Regions from separate parts of the Homo sapiens genome. Here region 1 is linked to region 2. The links come from fine-mapping of genetic effects on plasma protein levels. A gene starts in region 2. The other region holds a variant in brackets. All regions are shown on one strand. Distances are from middle to middle.

Region 1 (8,323 bases), 560 kb after region 2:
CACCCCACCCCCATCATAGATGTTTTCAAATAAGAACCCCTGCGATCAGCAGAAGCATCTCTAATCTAACATGCTTTGTCCTTGCTAGGGCAGGCTAAAAGCTTTAAAAAGCAACCGGATGCTCTTCTCTGGTTGAGGTGAGGGGAAGGCGCTCGGGTACCAACCCCAGCACACCCCAACAGCCTTTCCTCGGCCCCTCCTCAGGCCTCCTAATTACTCTTTCTCAGCCTGGAGTGTGGGGCCGTTACCGTCCTCTTCCCCCTTCTCCTTCCATACTGCACTTAACCTTGCTGGAAGACTTAATGATGGAGATTTAGGGCAACTGTGGCTGCTTGGACCCTTCCCTGGACCAAAGGAACTTAAAACCCAAACCTGACACTGGAATGAAATCCAAGTTTTTAAATATCACCTTTCAATCACTCACAGATCTCACTCTATCTTAAAATACTCAGCCTCACTCCTTAATGAGTGCTTGCTGAAGGGAGAAAATTCCATTTTAAAAACGTATTCACTTTACTGATTACTGTGCAATTTGAATTAAGTCACGATTCTTTAGTAAATGGAGGTGAGAATCTCAGATTCAAATTGTCAGAGACCATGATTTAGAAGTCTACCAAACACCCAGTTTCCTTCCACTGTTTTAGGGTAACAGGAAAACATGAGATTGGGGTGGTGTCCGCTATTAAATGGAACCACACATCATGAAATTCAATTCTCATGTTAAGACATTCTGTATTGTGGGATGTCAAAAGTATTTCCCAAACTTTCGTTTGACCTGCAGAGTTGGAGATGGCTTACCTCCCTATAACTTCAAGTTTGTTTCACAAAGCTTTGAAAAGTAAAACAGATAATTTCATTTTCAGATAATAAAAAATCTGAATAGCAAAATAATTGCTTTTAAATGTAGTGTGTCCACTCTAAAAAAAAAAACCCTAAATCTATGTTAGAAAAACTTTTCAAATAATGCCTTTTATTAAATTCTCCAGTAGTAGTTGAAATAAAAATCTACCCTAATTTCTATGAAATGATCTATTTATATCACTGACTTTTCTTTTTCTCTGATTCTATATTTCATTTAACAATCTGCAGACTTTCACCCCATTTCCCAGATGGGAAAACCCTAGCCCCCTCGTATCTCTGAGAAGTTGCTCAGAGTAGGACACAGAGAAATATGGCCCCCACCCTGGGAAGTACTGCTGTCACTGTTTAAGTGTATTTCAGTTCTGTTACTCCAATTCATACACACAGTCTTCCATGAGGATGGTAGGATGAACCTGGTTAGCTGGCTTTGGATAAGCAGATCAGCATGACTACCTGGAATAAAAGTGACTGACTCTAGGATAAAAATTAAAAAAAGATTCTTTCACAGCAACGAGTCTTTGCAAAACCTCTCTCCTAATAATCACAAACCAGGGGAAGAAAAGTGGGAGCAGGGAACACAGGAACACAGCCAAAGGGAATATTGCAAAATGCTTCCCGAGCTTCATCAGACAGACTTCTTGCAATGCCACGACTGGATGCATCTGCACACAATTCCGGGAAATGCCCACCTTGCTGTTCTCCTATCCCCAATTTTCTTTCTTTCTTTCTTTTTTTTTTTTCTTTTTTTGAGACAGAGTCTCTGTTACCCAGGCTGGAGTGCAGTGGTGCAATCTCGGCTCACTGCAACCTCTGCCTCCCAGATTTAGGTGATTCTCCTGCCTCAGCCTCCTGAGTAGCTGGGACTACAGGCGCCCACCACCACGCCCGGCTAATTTTTGTATTTTTAGTAGAGACAGGCTTTCACCACGTTGGCCAGGCTGGTCTCAAACTCCTGACCTCAAGTGATCCGCCCACCTCTGCCTCCCAAAGTGCTGAGATTACAGGAGTGAGCCACCGTGCCTGGCCAGTCCTATCCTCCCCCCAACCTTTTTTTTTTTTTTGACATGGAGTCTCACGCCATCACCCAGGCTGGAGTGCAGTGGCGCCATCTTGGCTCACTGCAACCTCCGCCTCCCATGTTCAAGTGATCCTCCTGCCTCAGCCTCCTGAGTAGCTGGGACTACAGGCGCCCGCCACCACGCCCAGCTATTTTTTTGTATTTTTAGTAGAGACGGGGTTTCGCCATGTTAGCCAGGATGGTCTCGATCTCCTGACCTTGTGATCCACCCGCCTTGGTCTCCCAAAGTGCTGGGATTACAGGCCTGAGCCACTGTGCCCAGCCTTATCCTCAATTTTCTAAGCATAAGGATTTAAGAGTTAGTGGGAAAGCATGACTACGGTTTAAAAGAACCTGGTCAGCTGAAGCAGTCCCACTTGGCCATTCCAGTACACTTCCTACTCTCGCTTCATGGAGAAGACCGTCTACTGACAAGAGAATCCATCCCCTTTGCACACAGTGGTCACCTGACAGCTCAGAGGTCAACTTCTTGGTTTTGAGGAAAAATTCAAAAGGCTGCACGTTTAAAGGAGTTGTTCCATTTCAGTGCCCCATTAGCCTGTCTTTCCTCAGAAATTTACCAATCTCTTGATGTGATAAGCACCAAACTATGAAGCTTTTCCCTTCCTCTCCCCGCTGCTCCGTTCTGTGAACCGACTTTTTGTCTACAATCACACTGATTTCTTCACTGTTTGCTCTGAAACTTCACTTTTTCTGAGTGATGTGTTCTGTCAAATAGGCTAAAATAAAATACAGTATCTGCTTACAGGTAATATACGGAACAATAACAAGGGACTGAAGGTACAAAACACACACGGACATTATGGTCATATAAAATATATAGAAGTACCTAACGTTAACAATTTTTGTAAGAAGTTGCACATTTTGCTATTTTTTTAAAGCATTTCCCCACATTTTTTTTCATCTGTAGATCCTCTGCAGTTAAGATTGAGCACCCCCCCGCAACTTTTTTTTTTGATACAGAGCCTCGCTCTGTCACTCAAGGCTGGAGTGCCAGTGGCATGATCTTAGCTCACTGCAACCTCCGCCTCGCAGGTTCAAGCCATTCTCCTGCCTCAGCCTCCCGAGTAGCTGGGACTACAGGCGTGCGCCACTGTGCCCAGCTAATTTTTTTTTGTATTTTTAGTAGAGACAAGGTTTCACCATGTTGGCCAGGCTGGTCTCGAACTACTGACCTCGTGATCCGCCTGCCTCGGCCTCCCAAAGTGCTGCGATTACAGGCGTGAGCCACGGCGCCCGGCCAAGATTGAGCTCCCTCTTGCAATGTTTCTCAAATTCATCACGATTGGAACATACCGACGGAATTCATTTTCTGTCTGAAGCAATGAGTGCTATACATGAAAGTTTTCCTCACATA[T/C]AATATTCATCAAGTTTATTTACAGTATAAGCTTTCCGATGCTAAGGGCTGAGATGTGATTAAAGGCTTTGCCGTATTCATCACATTCAGGAGGCTCCTTTCTGGAATAAATTCTCTGATGTCTATGTGAACTGTCCCACGTATCACACGTCAACCTCTCTATACATATTTAGCAGTTTCACTTTTATGCCTTTAATATTAAGTGCTTTACATATCAAGATGTCTCATAGATCGATAATCTCAGGTTTTAGCCTTGCCTGCCAGGCTGGAGTAGAAACAAATACCCCACAACCTGAGGATTTTACTTCTCTTCCTGGCAAGGGTAGGGTATATATTGAAAAACTCTTCAAAAATTTCCATTAGGACAACTAGCATGCTAATGGTTAACTGTAGAATGTTTCAACTGTTAACAGACTTCAGCGGGCCAAGAACTTTTGAATGACTATCTTGAACGCCAATTAGATGTTGCAAGCGTTTTTGACCATGACCCAATTACACTTTGCACTGAGCATCTGATAAACGAATGCACTGCAAGTGGTTTTAATAAACAGTTGTAGCCTGTTTTCCTCAGAAAACACATCTTCAAATAGCTGCTTCAAGGACAGCATGTGGCTGAAGATCGAAGCAACCCTAGTGGCAGCTATCCAACAAAGTCAGGAAGATGTCTCCATGAAACGGAATTAAATGTGAGGGCACAGGTCACATTTAACCTTCATTTAAAAACAAAACTCAAAAGTGATGGCTGAGTTATATCAGCATATAGTTGTGGCTGAAAGAAAAAAAAAAACCAAAGGCCAATGTAAACATGACCAAAGTCCTTTCCCTCTTAAAAAATAAGTGCTTGGGTCGTTGCCTGGAGTTCCACACCTCACTTTTCAGTTTCTTTCTTTCTTTTTTTTTTTTTTGAGATGGAGTTTTGCTAGTCACCCAGGCTGGAGTGCAGTGTGCAATCTTGGCTCACTGCAACCTCTGCCTCCTGGGTTCAAGTGATTCTCCTGCCTCAGCCTCCCAAGTAGCTGGGATTACAGGTGCCCACCATCATGCCCGGCTAATTTTTATAATTTTAGTAGAGACGGGATTTTACCATGTTGGCCAGGCTGGTCTCAAAACTCCTGACCTCAGGTGATCCGCTCACCTCGGCCTCCCAAAGTGCTGGGATTACAGGCGTGAGCCACCGCACCTGGCCTCAGTTGCTTTCTAGAGGGCAAAAGTCCTTGCTCAAAAGCACAGGAGTTTTCTACAAAACCATTGCTGTGGCTTATTCTTTGAAGAAAATCCTTAAAACATTTTCTGCCTCCATTTTAGTTACTTAGATATACTCTTCTGGAGTAATGGGTTTTTCTTCCGTTGCATGGGTAGAAATATCCTAGTGACTGGTTGACTTGCAACACGTTTTCCCAAGTAATGCTGATGAAACTGCTTAGAAGCTATAGGGAAGTTGTAGTTGGTTTAAGTCATAAAGCCAAGGAGAGGCCAAAGAATGACCACTGTGCAGTTTTAGCTCCCACTTCGTTGGTTCCATATAAAACCATTTGGTCTCATGGACTTTAGCTGCTGATCAGTGAATGACTGATGAGTAATAGTTTTAGTATAAGTTTCTCAAGGGAAAGTCTCAAACTATATATGGGGTTCTCTTGTTATGGGGAGGTCACACTGATAGTCTTGAGGTTTGTTCTCAGTCTATGTTTCTGTTTCCGCAGGGCGGTCCTAGCCTTGGGTAGGACCCTTGTCCTACTTGAGTGGCGATGACTACTTACACAGCTCACAATCTCCTGTGTGTGAAACAGTCTCCTGCCATCAGCTTCTAGGTAGCCAGTTGCACCCTGCGCACAACGATGGGACCAATGAAAGTTTCATAACCTCACCTCAGTCTTTAGTGATAAGAAACAGAAAAGTCACTGTGCACTATGACGATGGCACAGCCAGCCACATCTCAGTACACTGCTGAGTTTCTCAGAGCAACAAAATACATTTAGTAATTGCCAGTGAACAATTAATGCTTTTGCAAAGTTACTGGAAAAGCGTGGGAAAAAACACTCCCTACCACGTTCCTTTTTCTGAAAAGCAACAAAAATCACATCTTCTGAACTCCAGTATCTAAGTACAAATGATTCAGAAAATCCCCAAATCATCATACTGTTCAGCAGCTAACTGCAAAGAATTCTAAGAGCTTTGCCACAGAAAGATGTCAAAAAAAAAAAATGACCTTCATCAGTGTTCATATTTTTCTTCAAGATGACGATGATAAAGTCATTTCTGACATTCCATGGTATTTACTCACTGTTTAGAAAGTCTATGCAGGCGGCTGACTAGTGCCTTTCGTTTATATTTGGAACAAAAACAGCATCAGACCCTAGAGGTTTAGCATGCCTTGTGGCTACGAAGGTCCTCTTTAGAAGCTGGGCCAGGCTACCATATTTCAGGGACTCACGATTCACAGGCTTTTATCACACACGTAGAAGTCCTGTAGAAGTCAGTCTGAATGAGTGCCTCTTAGGTGTTCAGTACTCACTATGTCCAGCACTGTGCTGGCAGGGATAGAAATATATCCCTTGACAACCGAATCTTTTTTGGGGGTTAGGGGGTGATTAAAAACTTCATACATGAAACAATGAAGGATTAAAAGACAGTATACAATCAAGTGCTAACTTGTGGAGAAATGCATTTAGGAGTGCGATAGTGCTTTAGGGATTTCAAGAAGGGAGAGATGTATTTGGAGTTGTTGTTGCCATTTCAGTAGAACTGATCTCAGGGATGAGGACAGAACCATCTACATTTGTTGCAGTCCTTTGGAACTGTAGACTGGTGCACATACCCTCTCTTTCGGGAAGAGATAGAAATCTTTGGTTTGATACTGATTAGCACAGTCCTAGATTTCTACAGCTTTGGTAGGCTACCAGTGATCATATATACAACTTATCGTATATATAACTACCTTGAGCAGCATGTCCCAATGTCGTTTTTGTTTTCACTGTCCCTCTTTTTTGAGAAATAAGCAGGATGTTGGCCAAAGTAGGGCTTGTTTGCAGCAAGTAGCATCCTAACCTCCGTATCACTTTCGTGGAGCCAATCTTGATCTTTCAACTATTATGTTGTGGTTGCCGAGAGTCCAAGAGTGCCTTAAAGGTATCCTCATTACTGAAAAGACTGACATTTCACTATGCGTGTGCTTTTCTCTTGTGTGGAAATCTCACGTGGATTATCCGTAAGATTAGCCTTTCCCTGCAGGGGCTGTGTGGAAGGATTATATGCCCAACTACTACATAAAGGCAGAACACTGCTGATGTGACTAGAAGGATCCTTAAGTGTGACTTTTGTTTTTTAATCTGTTGAGGCTGTATTTCTTTTTCCCTCCAGGAGCACACATCTCTGAAATAATTTTAGAAACAAAAGGGGGAAATGGCTTGATGGCAAATTCTTCCTTTACACACAACTTTTCAGGAACGCGCCAAATGCATCAAGGGAGGCTGGGCTGTACTCAGAGGCTCTCTCTCTGGCATGGATTCTGTGATGCAGAGTGAGGGTGGAGCTGCGGGTGAAGGCCTTGCCACACTTAGTGCACTTGTAGGGCTTTTCTCGAGTGTGAATTCTCCGATGCAAAATCAGGTATGAGTTTCGGTTGAAAGCTTTTCCACATTCACTACATTCATAGGGTTTCTCCCCCGTGTGAATTCTCTGATGCTTGGTGAGGTCCGAGCTCTGGCTGAAGGCCTTCCCGCACTCATTACATTCATAAGGTTTCTCTCCAGAGTGGATGCGCTGATGGAGGATGAGATTGGAACTGTGGCTGAAGGCCTTGCCACACTCGTTACATTCATGAGGTTTCTCTCCTGTGTGGATCCTCTGATGCAGGACAAGGTTGGAGTTAAGACTGAAGGCTTTCCCACACTCACTACATTCATAGGGCTTTTCTCCAGTGTGGATTATTTTATGGCGGATAAGGCTTGAACTTCTCGTGAAGCATTTACCACATTCATCACATCTGTGAGACTTTGTTCCCGTGGGAACTTCTTCAGGGGTGGTGAAGTTGGAGCTCAGACTGAAGCTTCTTCCCAATCCTTTCCCCTTCTCCCTTGGACCTCTCTCTCCTGTGATGGTTTTTTTGTCCTTTCCTATAGCTGGCCCTGAATCTCTTTTCTCTTTCCTGGTTTTCTCCTCAGGGTTTTTCTGCTGTCTTTCTCCTGTTTTGCCCTCCTGGTCACGTTTCTCTCCAAACTCTTTCTGGGATCTTCCTGTTGTCTCCCCGCGTGATGCTGAATCTTCCGAGGTTTCAGCCTTTGAGGTTGACTCCTCGTTCTCATTCCTGTTTTCACCACCTGACATAATAAATAGAAAATTCAAATCGCACCTTTTTCTTTTGAATATACAGGTGGGTCAAGCGACAGTTTCCCGAGAAGCTTCTACACGGCTGCAAAATGACTTTGCAATATTTTTATTTTTATTTCCTTTGAGACAGAGTCTCGCTCTGTCGCCCAGGCTGGAGTGCAGTGACGTGATCTCAGTTCACTGCAACCTCCGCCTCCCAGGTTCAAGTGATTCTCCTGCCTCAGCCTCCCAAGTAGCTGGGACTATAGGTGCATGCTACCACGCCCGGGTAACTTTTTTTTTTTTTTGAGATGGAGTCTTGCTCTGTTACCCAGGCTGGAGTGCAATGGCGTGATCTCGGCTCACTGCAAGCTCCGCCTCCCAGGTTGACGCCATTCTCCTGCCTCAGCCTCCTGAGTAGCTGGGACTACAGGCGCCCGCCACCACGCCCGGCTAATTTTTTGTATTTTTAGTGTAGACGGGGTTTCACCATGTTAGCCAGGATAGTCTCGATCTCCTGACCTCGTGATCCACCCGCCTCGGCCTCCCAAAGTGCTGGGATTACAGGCGTGAGCCACCACGCCTGGCCTACGCCCGGGTAACTTTTGTATTTTTTTAGTAGACACGGGGTTTCACCATGTTGGCCAGACTGCTCTCAAACTCCTGACCTCAGGTGATCCACCTGCCCTGGCCTCCCAAAGTGATGGGATTACAGGCATGAG
Region 2 (8,323 bases):
AAACTTCTCGAAGGTCAGCGCGATGACCTGGCGGCGGGCGGAGGCGGGGACTGCGCGGCGGGACACCCCTGGGCGCCTGCACCTCATCTCCTACTGGGTGCCTGCAGCAGCTCCCACTCCCACCTCCCGCGTCCTCTGGGCCCCCCTCCTGAAGGCGTTCACACCACAGCACGGAGGACCACACACACCCATGGGACCCTGCAGGGGTGTCGGTCGTCGTGGTTGGCAAGGTCAAGTCCTGGCGCACTCACAAGTGACAGGCCCGCGTGTTATACCAGGACCCTGTACCTCGCTCTCCTGAGACTTGTCTCAGTTGTAATTTTTACATTTTTGTTTGCGTGCATGCAGGGGTTGGGGCTGTTTTGGGTGCCCACCAGCGCAAGCGCAGTGCTCGGGACACAGCAGATCTTCAATAAATCTCTGCTGGCTGCAAGCTGGAGGGCGCCGCCTGGGTCCCCTAGGGCAGCCCGGGGAGGAGGGTCGGTACCTGGTCCGGGGGCGCGATGATGTGCCAGGAACAGCTGATGCCCGGGGGGTAATCGGACTCGGGCCAGTTGGGCGTGGTCAGGGTTCCCTGGGCCTTCTCCAGCCGCCCCCCGCAAAATTGGTGCTCTGGGGAGGGGAGAGAGGAGCGGGGGTGGGGGGCGGTGGAGACCCTCGGTCAGCTTCAGGAGAACTCTAGGCTGGGAGCCCCGGCAGGCAGCTCGGATGTCTGGGGCTCAGGATGAGGGGACGAGAAGAAGGGGAGGTAAGATGGGGGCAGGTTAACAGAGAGCGGCCGGGAGGAGCGCGGCTCGGGGAAGTCTGGGGCCGCAGGGCGCACTGGCGGGCGGTGGAAGCGGGAGGAGGAACTGGCTGGACGCCCCCTTCTGGCCCCTCCCCGACCCGCGGCCGCACCGCGCCTCTTCCCCTAGGAGATCCCATCTCCCCGGCCCTGCAGCAGAGTCCCCTTTCAGGCTGGAGAGGGTGTCCTCGACTTGGGGCACAGCCCCCGAGGACCCCTTTAGGGAGGTCCCCGCCTGAAACATTGCAAGGGAGACTTCTGCCGCCAGGAGGGGGTGATGGGACCGCAATCGGGAGCCCAGGGCTGGGTGTAGGGGCCCCCCGGGGTTGGAGGAACCTAGTCCCCCCAGCCCTGGGGTGCCCCCTCGCGCCCGACGGAGGGAGCCCGATTGCGGACGGGGGCCGGCAGTTACTCACCGTCCCAGTAACCCCAGGCCGCCCATTCCACCCGCGGGTCGGTGACCCATTTCCGCCTCGCGCCTGGGGGGGGCCCTGGAAGAGGGATGGGTGGGTGCGGGAGGAGGGGAGAGAAGACGGGGAGGAGGGACTGAAGGGGCGGTTAGTGAGGAAAATGGGTCAGGGAGGTAGGGGGCCCTAGGCACTGGGGCGCGGGGTGGGCGGGGCGGAGGTTAGGGCTGGGGGCGGGGCTGCGGCCGGGGCGGGGCCTGGAGGGGGGGAAGGCGGAGGTGAGGGAGTTCTCACCAGTGCCCGAGGTGGCCCGCCCGCTGTACCAGAGCAGGAAGCCTCGTCCTCCTGTGCCCTCATCCGTCGTCATCCTCAGGGTCACCTGGTTGCCGGGGGCGACTAGGGGCGCAGGCCGGAAGGTCCCACAAAAGCGTCCGAGCCGCTGGCCGGAAGTCCCAGACCCAGCGAAGACCTCCAGAGCATCGTAGCGGCAGGCGGGGTGCAGCTCCAGGTCGAAGACTCGGAATGAGAGGGACACAGTCTGGCCCTCGGGGACCTGATAGCGGGGACAGAGGCGGGGACCCACAGAGTCAGGCCCCACACAACCCAGCCAGAGGGCAGCTCCCCTGCCCCAAGCGTTTCTTGCAGAAACGGACTGAATGGGAAGGGGCCTCCATGTGAGTGCAGAGCAGAGGGCCTGGTCTCTGCAGCTCTGCTGGTAGCCTGTGCAGGGGACAAGAGCTGAGGCTTTGGAAGAGGAGGGAGGGCCGGGGACTGGAGAATGAAGATTTGAGGGAAGGGTTAAGATGATGCGTGTTACGGTGGGAATGATGCCTTCAGTGACAGAGGGAAGACACTTGGAGCTGCCCCAGGTTGAGAAGGTGGTGCGGGGGGGACGGGGGGGGGGTCCCTTCGCAGTCAGGCCTTTTTGCCTCTGAGACTTTAACAAGGGGTAGTGCCCAGAGGGGTTTCTCACCGTTATGGTCCAGATGCACTCCTTATTAGGGGGGTAGAGGTTGGGGAACCCCTCACTTGCCACGTAACCTGATTCCCCCTTCACATCCCCTCCGCACAGGAACACGGGTCTGGAGAACAGAAAAGGGGTCAGGAAAGAGCAGGGACGGGTGGGACGGGGGAGCACTGGCAAGATGGGGATGAGGTGATGAGGATGAAACTCCAAGGAGGGAAGCTGGGGGATGAAATGGAAAGGCCTTGAGAGACCTGGGGCAGCTTCCACCAGCCAGGACAGGGCTGGGGTGTCCCAGACTCCCACAAAGATAAGGGAAAAGTGGGCCTGGCAACTCGACCATCCCTCCAACCCCAAGAGTCCCCACCCCCACCCCAACAGGAATTCCCGGAATCCTCCTCGGCCCCCCTTCCAGACTCCCGCCTCACTCTGCCTGGCAGTCCAGGGACAGGAGCCGCCTAACTACTTCCAGATGTGGACACAGCCACGAGGCGGTGGGGGGGAGGGGGTGGAGAGATGGAGGGAGCTGCAGTGGCGATGGCCCTCTGATTGAACCTGGAGGCCAGGCTCCGCGAGCTCCACACCTTAGCCCTGCCCCTGTTCCAAACTACTTCAGATTCTGACTCCCAAGTCTCCACTCACTGCCCCCTCCTCCCCCTACAATCCCTCTCGAATTCCTTCCTGGAATCCAGCTACCAGGCAAGTTCAGGAGCTTGGCTCTCTCTTGGGTTCTATGGGGGGTCAAGGATCTGGGTGGGTGGGGAGACTTAAGAGACCAGAGGACGAAGGTGGGGGAATGGGAGCAGTGGTGGCCTGCAGGAGACCAAGGTCTTGCAGCAGATGGGGAGGATTTGGGGGCCAGAGAAGGGTGAGGCGGTGGGGAATCTGGGGAGTGGTGTGTCAGCAAGGGAACCCAAAATATCTCCAGGCATAACCCCAAAGGAATCGGGGGTCTGAAGTTCACTGGAGCTGTCTGGAAGATGCCAAGAGACCTACCTGGTGTAGTTGGGGGTCTGGCCCTGGGCAAAAGGCAGCAGGGCGCAGGCAGTGAGGAGGGGCCCCAGGAGGGAGGCTGTGGCTGCAGGCAGCATGGCCCCGGGGGAAAGGCGCTGGGGTCCTCAAGACAGAGGCAGCAGCTGAATTTTGCAGAGCAGCAGCAGCGGTGGCGGCAGCAGCAGGATAATCAGCGCCAGATGGGGCAGCCTTGGGTGTGTGGGCGTGGGGACTGGCCAGTGGGGCGGGCAATGGGGAAGGCGGGACAGTGGCGTGTCCTGGGACCTCTCTAGGTCTAGGACACATAAATGTTGACCTTAGGAGGGGGAGGAGCAGTGAGGGGCAGAGGCCGTCTCCCAGGCCTCAAGTAACGTCATCGGGAACCCCACTCTGTCCAGTGAGGGAGTATCTCCGGGAACTTCTGAGGACTCCCTAGCCCCCATCCTCCCCCCGCCCCTGCTTCCTCAGCTCAGGAGCCCTCATTGCTCACCCCCTGCCTGACCACCCCTGCCAGCTCATTTTCCACTTCAATTTCTTTTTTTTTTTTTTTTTTTTTTTGAGACAGAGTCTCATTCTGTGACCCAGGCTGGAGTGCAGTGGCGCGATCTCTGCTCACTGCAACCTCCGCCTCCCGGGTTCAAGCAATTCTTGTGCCTTAGCCTCCCGAGTAGCTGGGACTGCAGGTGCATGCCTCCACACCTGGCTAATTTTTGTATTTTTAGTAGAGGCAGGGTTTCAGCATGCTGTCCAGGCTGGTCTCAAATTCCTAGCCTCAGGTGATCCGCCCACCTCGGACTCCCAAAGTGCTGGGATTATAGGCGTAGCCACCACACCTGGCCTCCACTTCACATCTCCATTGCCTTCTCTCCAGACCTGGGCCAGACTAGGCCAAGGAGAAGGAATTCTCACCCATGACCTCTTCCAACTACTTGAAGGTACAGGAAGCAAGGCAGGAGGCATGGGGTGTGGATGAAGGGAGTGTCCTTGTTACTCAGGAAGAGGTGGAAGGAGTAGAAAATAGAGCCCAAACCTGGGAGGTAAACAGAAGGGAGAGAGGAGGGGGGCTGGCTTCAGGCCGAAGGGAGATGGGTGGGAAGCTTTCGGGGGTCAGGAGGAACAGGCTGCCTCAGGATGGGGACAAGTCTAGTGGGCAGGGGATCCCAGTGGGGTAGCCAAGAGCATCTGTGCATAGAGTTGTTCCAGAAGGTAGGGCCAGAACTTCCCAGTCCAAACGACCAGGTGTGCTCTTGGGAGCAGGGAGTGGACAACAATGTGAAGGGTTCAGGCAGCATCAGCTCTGCTGCACCTGAGACCTGGAGCTGCTTGTGCTGCCTGCCCCTGCCTGGGCTCCTGCCCTCCTGCACCCACCAAGCCGGGCACCCACCCACCCCATCCCTGCCCCTGTCCCTCCCAGCCCCCAAGGCTTCCACACCAGGCCTCGCTGCAGCCTTTTATTCTATCCATCAAATCTCTTGTCCATGATAGTCAGGTTGGGGGCCCCTCCTGGGCAGCCCCCTGAACATTCTTACCCTGGTTAGCCGTCCCCACCCCCTAGCAACCCCTTCCCACACGCATGTGCACAATGGTCATTGCTCCTTAGTCCCTGGCCTGGGGCCGGACTCCCTCCTCCAGGGACTAGGCTAGCATGAGGGGGATTAGGTCTCAGGGGCTGGGGGCCCTACACCACCCCCGCCTCCTTCAGCCCTCTGCAGCATGTCCAGGGCCTCCCAGAAGAAGTCCTTCTGTGCGGCCATCAGGGGCATCCACCCTACGATCTCCTTCATCTTCTCCGTGCGGTCCTGCAACGTTTGGCAACTGTGGATCTGGCTGAGGTACTCCTCGCAGGCCTGGGCCATCCCCCCGGGGTCCTGGGGTGCTCTGGCCCCCAGGCTGGGCTCAGGAGTCCCCACCACCCTGCTGGCTGGCAGGTGGCGATAGGGGGCGTGCTGCTCAATGTCGTGGCTGGACAGGATGTATAGGCACTCCCTGGTGGCACAGAGGGCACAGGCACACAGAGGGACCTTGGAGGAGGAGAGAAAGGGGGCATGGCTGAGTGGTGCTTTCCTTGCAGGGTTTCCCAGGGTGCCCGGGCTAATCTGCCTATTGCATTCTTCCCTCTCACACCAGCCCTGAGCCGGCTAAGTCCCAGGGGTGTGTGAGGTTGGGCAAGGCCAGCACAGTCTGCTAAGGGAGAAAGCAGAGAGCGTGGTGTGCGGCAGAGGAGGGAGGTGGGGTGGTGCTAGGGAAATGGGACCCCCTGGGTCCCTGCAGGAGCCCCAGCTACAGCCTGTGGGCTTCCTGGTTCATGGCTCTCATCCTCCCTGGGTGCCCACTCTCCTGACCCCGCTCTGACCTTGACTTGGAGCTTGACGAAGGAGGCACTCCCCTTGGGCCAGCCTGGGAGGCGGCCCCCAGCCCCACAGCCGCAGCCCAGCAGCTCCTTGCTGAACTCTGAGCTCTGGCTCAGCACCAGGGAGTGGTTGAGGCCGCACCACAGGGTGATGGGCCGCTGCAGGTAACAAACCTGGGGACACACGGCCAGGGTCCCTGAGCAGGGAGCACCAAGGGACGGGGGGGCTGGGGTGGGAAAAGGTTGACTGGAAGGCTCGGGGCAGAATGAACTGGGGAGGAGGAAATGGGAGCCAGCACTGTCCCACGCCCCAGGTCTGCCCTGCTGACCCCTGCAGCCCCCATACTCTAACTGGTCACATAGGGTCTTGCACTTCTGTTGGTATCTCATCTATGCCCCCAGAAAATCAGCTCCTTGCCTGAGCCCAGGGCCTGCTGTGGTGTACCCCTCATTCTCAGCCCACCCGTCTATGCCAGTCCAGCCTCTCATCCTGCCTGCCAGCCTCGGGGAGACTTGCTTCTTGTGCAATTCCAGGTTAGACCCCAACACCACCCTGAGGAAGGACTTTCCCTTCCACTATCCCTCCCTTCCTGCTCTAGTATTATCTTTTCTTTCTTTCTTTCTTTTTTTTTTTTTTGTTTGAGACAGAGTCGGAAGGCTGGAGTGCAGCAGTGCGATCTCGGCTCACTGCAACCTCTGCCTTCCTGGGTTCAAGTGATTCTCCCACCTCAGCCTCCCAAGTAGCTAGGACTACAGGTCCTTGCCACCACACCCATCTAATTTTTGTATTTTTAGTAGAGAAGGGGTTTTGCCATGTTGACCAGGCTGGTCTCGAACTCCTGACCTCAGGTGATCTGCCTGCCTTGGCCTCCCAAAGTGCTGGGATTACAGGCATGAACCACTGAGCCCAGCCTCCACTCTAGCATTTTTATTTTCTCTTTTCTTTTTTTAGAGATGGGGTCTCATTCTGTTGCCCAGGCTGAAATGCAGTGGTGCAATCATAGCTCACTGCAGCCTTGACCTCCTGGGCTCAAGCCATTCTTCTGCCTCAGCCTCCTGAGTAGTTGGGAATACAGGCATGTGCCACCACACCCGGCATGTGCCTATAATTTTTAAATTTTAAATTTTTAAATTTTCTATAGAGATAGTGTCTCACTATGTTGCTCATGGTGATCTCGAACTCCGGGCCTCCCACCTCAGCCTCTAGCATTTTTTTTTTTTTTGTAGAGACGGAGTCTCGCTCTGTTGCCCAAGCTGAAGTGCAGTGGCACGATTTCAGTTCACTGCAACCTCCGCCTCTCCAGTTCAAGCAATTCTCCTTCCTCAGCCTCCCGAGTAGCTGGGACTATGGGTGCACACCGCCACACCTGGCTAATTTCTTTTGTATTTTAGTAGAGACGGGGTTTCACCATGTTGCCCAGGCTGGTCCCGAACTCCTGGGCTCAGGCAATCCACCTGCCTTGGCCTCCCAAAGTGCTAGGATTACAGGTGTGAGCTAGTTGAAATGCTTAGCCTAGCATTTTCAACTTATCACATAATTCTTTTCCAAAATGGCCACCCTGTTTTTGAAAAAAAAGCTTCTACTTGCTTCCTGCCGCTTCCTGCCTCTCTCTCTTAAGCAGCAGAGTTGGTTACATGACCAATCTGAGGCTGACCACATTACTGTTCCTTCCCACAGCCAGTCTATCCAGCACCTCCCTGGGATCTCGCTTTTCTCTCTATTACATTACTGACATGCTCTCTCTAGAGGCACTTGGCCTCTCAGTGGCTAAATCCCAGGGCGTCTTCTGCCCCCTCATTCTCCTGAGCCTGTTAGCGCTTTAATTCTGAAGACACTGATAAGTAATTTATGGTCATTCTAGAAAAATTATGAAACATTGGCAAGCAAAAAATTAATTTTAAAATCATTGGAAATCCCACCATCTACTATTAACATCTTGCTAGATATTCTTCACTGTTGGCTAAACAAACAAATACACATAAATTGTATATTTTTTATTTTTTAGAGATAGGGTCTCAGTGTCACCCAGGCTGGAGTGCAGTGGTGATCACAGCTCACTGCAGCCTTCAACTCCTGGCCTCAAGCAATCCTCCTGTCTCAGCCTCCTGAGTAGTTGGGATTACAGATGTCAGCCACCATGATGGGCAAGTTGTGTATTTTTAAACAAAAAATGGGATGGGGCCAGGTGTGGTGGCTCACACCTGTAATCCCAGCACTTTAGGAGTCTGAGGTGGGAGGATTGCTTAAAGCCATGAGTTCAATATAAGCTTGGGCAACATAGCAAGACCCTGTCTCTAAAAAAAAAAAAAACAAAAAAAACAAAAAAAACAAAAACTTATCTGGGCGTAGTGGCGCATTCCTGTAGTCCTAGCTGCTTGGGAGGTTGAGGCGGGAGGATCTCTTGAGCCCTGGAGTTGAAAGCTGCAGCAAGCTACGATTGTGTCACTGCACTCCAGCTTGGGAAGCAGTGGAGACCATGTCTCAAAAAAGTAATAATAAAAATAAAAAGAGGCTGGGTGCGGTGGCTCACACCTGTAATCCCAGCACTTTGGGAGGCCAAGGTGTGCAGATCACCTGAGGTCAGGAGTTTGAGACCAGCCTGGCCAACATGGTAAAACTCCGTCTCTACTAAAAATACAAAAATTAGCCGGGCATGGTGGTGGGCGCTGTAATCCCATCTTGGCAGGCTGAGGCAGGAGAATCACTTGAACCTGGGAGGCAGAGGTTGCAGTGAGCCGAGATCGCGCCATTGCACTCCAGCCTGGGAGACAGAGCAAGACTCTATCTTGAAAATAAAATAAAAATAAAAATAAAAATAAATGGT

Which allele goes with the higher level. Positions count from the first base shown, and alleles are read on the strand shown. Strength reflects both the effect of a copy and how common the allele is.
With allele T in place of C in region 1, the plasma level of the protein whose gene starts at base 3,340 in region 2 is higher (moderate association).

The links. PIP is the chance, under the fine-mapping model, that this variant and not a neighbour inherited with it causes the effect. The UK Biobank Pharma Proteomics Project read protein levels with antibody pairs (Olink). The fine-mapping took linkage between variants from a reference panel, not from the people measured, so its PIPs are less certain.
Region 1: its variant is fine-mapped to the plasma level of the PCOLCE protein (UK Biobank, PIP above 0.99).

Annotation. Positions count from the first base shown.
Region 1 is chr7:100,032,594-100,040,916 of GRCh38, reverse strand. ZKSCAN1 (zinc finger with KRAB and SCAN domains 1) reads right to left here. Exons shown (of 6, transcript NM_003439.4): 6 at 1-7,612. The coding sequence ends at 6,720. Among named protein-coding and RNA genes, the nearest start is that of ZSCAN21, 13 kb to the left of the region's middle. RefSeq lists enhancers at 2,586-3,085, 3,086-3,587. The variant T/C (reference allele first, on the strand shown) is at 3,297.
Region 2 is chr7:100,597,380-100,605,702 of GRCh38, reverse strand. PCOLCE (procollagen C-endopeptidase enhancer) reads right to left here and starts at 3,340. Exons shown (of 9, transcript NM_002593.4): 1 at 3,152-3,340; 2 at 2,165-2,273; 3 at 1,486-1,744; 4 at 488-612; 5 at 1-27. The coding sequence starts at 3,246. FBXO24 (F-box protein 24) reads right to left here. Exons shown (of 10, transcript NM_033506.3): 9 at 5,502-5,672; 10 at 4,586-5,169. The coding sequence ends at 4,804. PCOLCE-AS1 (PCOLCE antisense RNA 1) reads left to right here and starts at 1,665. Exons shown (of 9, transcript NR_038910.1): 1 at 1,665-1,865; 2 at 2,537-3,363; 3 at 4,020-4,083; 4 at 4,851-4,980; 5 at 5,514-5,663; 6 at 5,901-6,032. RefSeq lists enhancers at 1-3, 1,439-2,231 and silencers at 722-871, 1,052-1,431.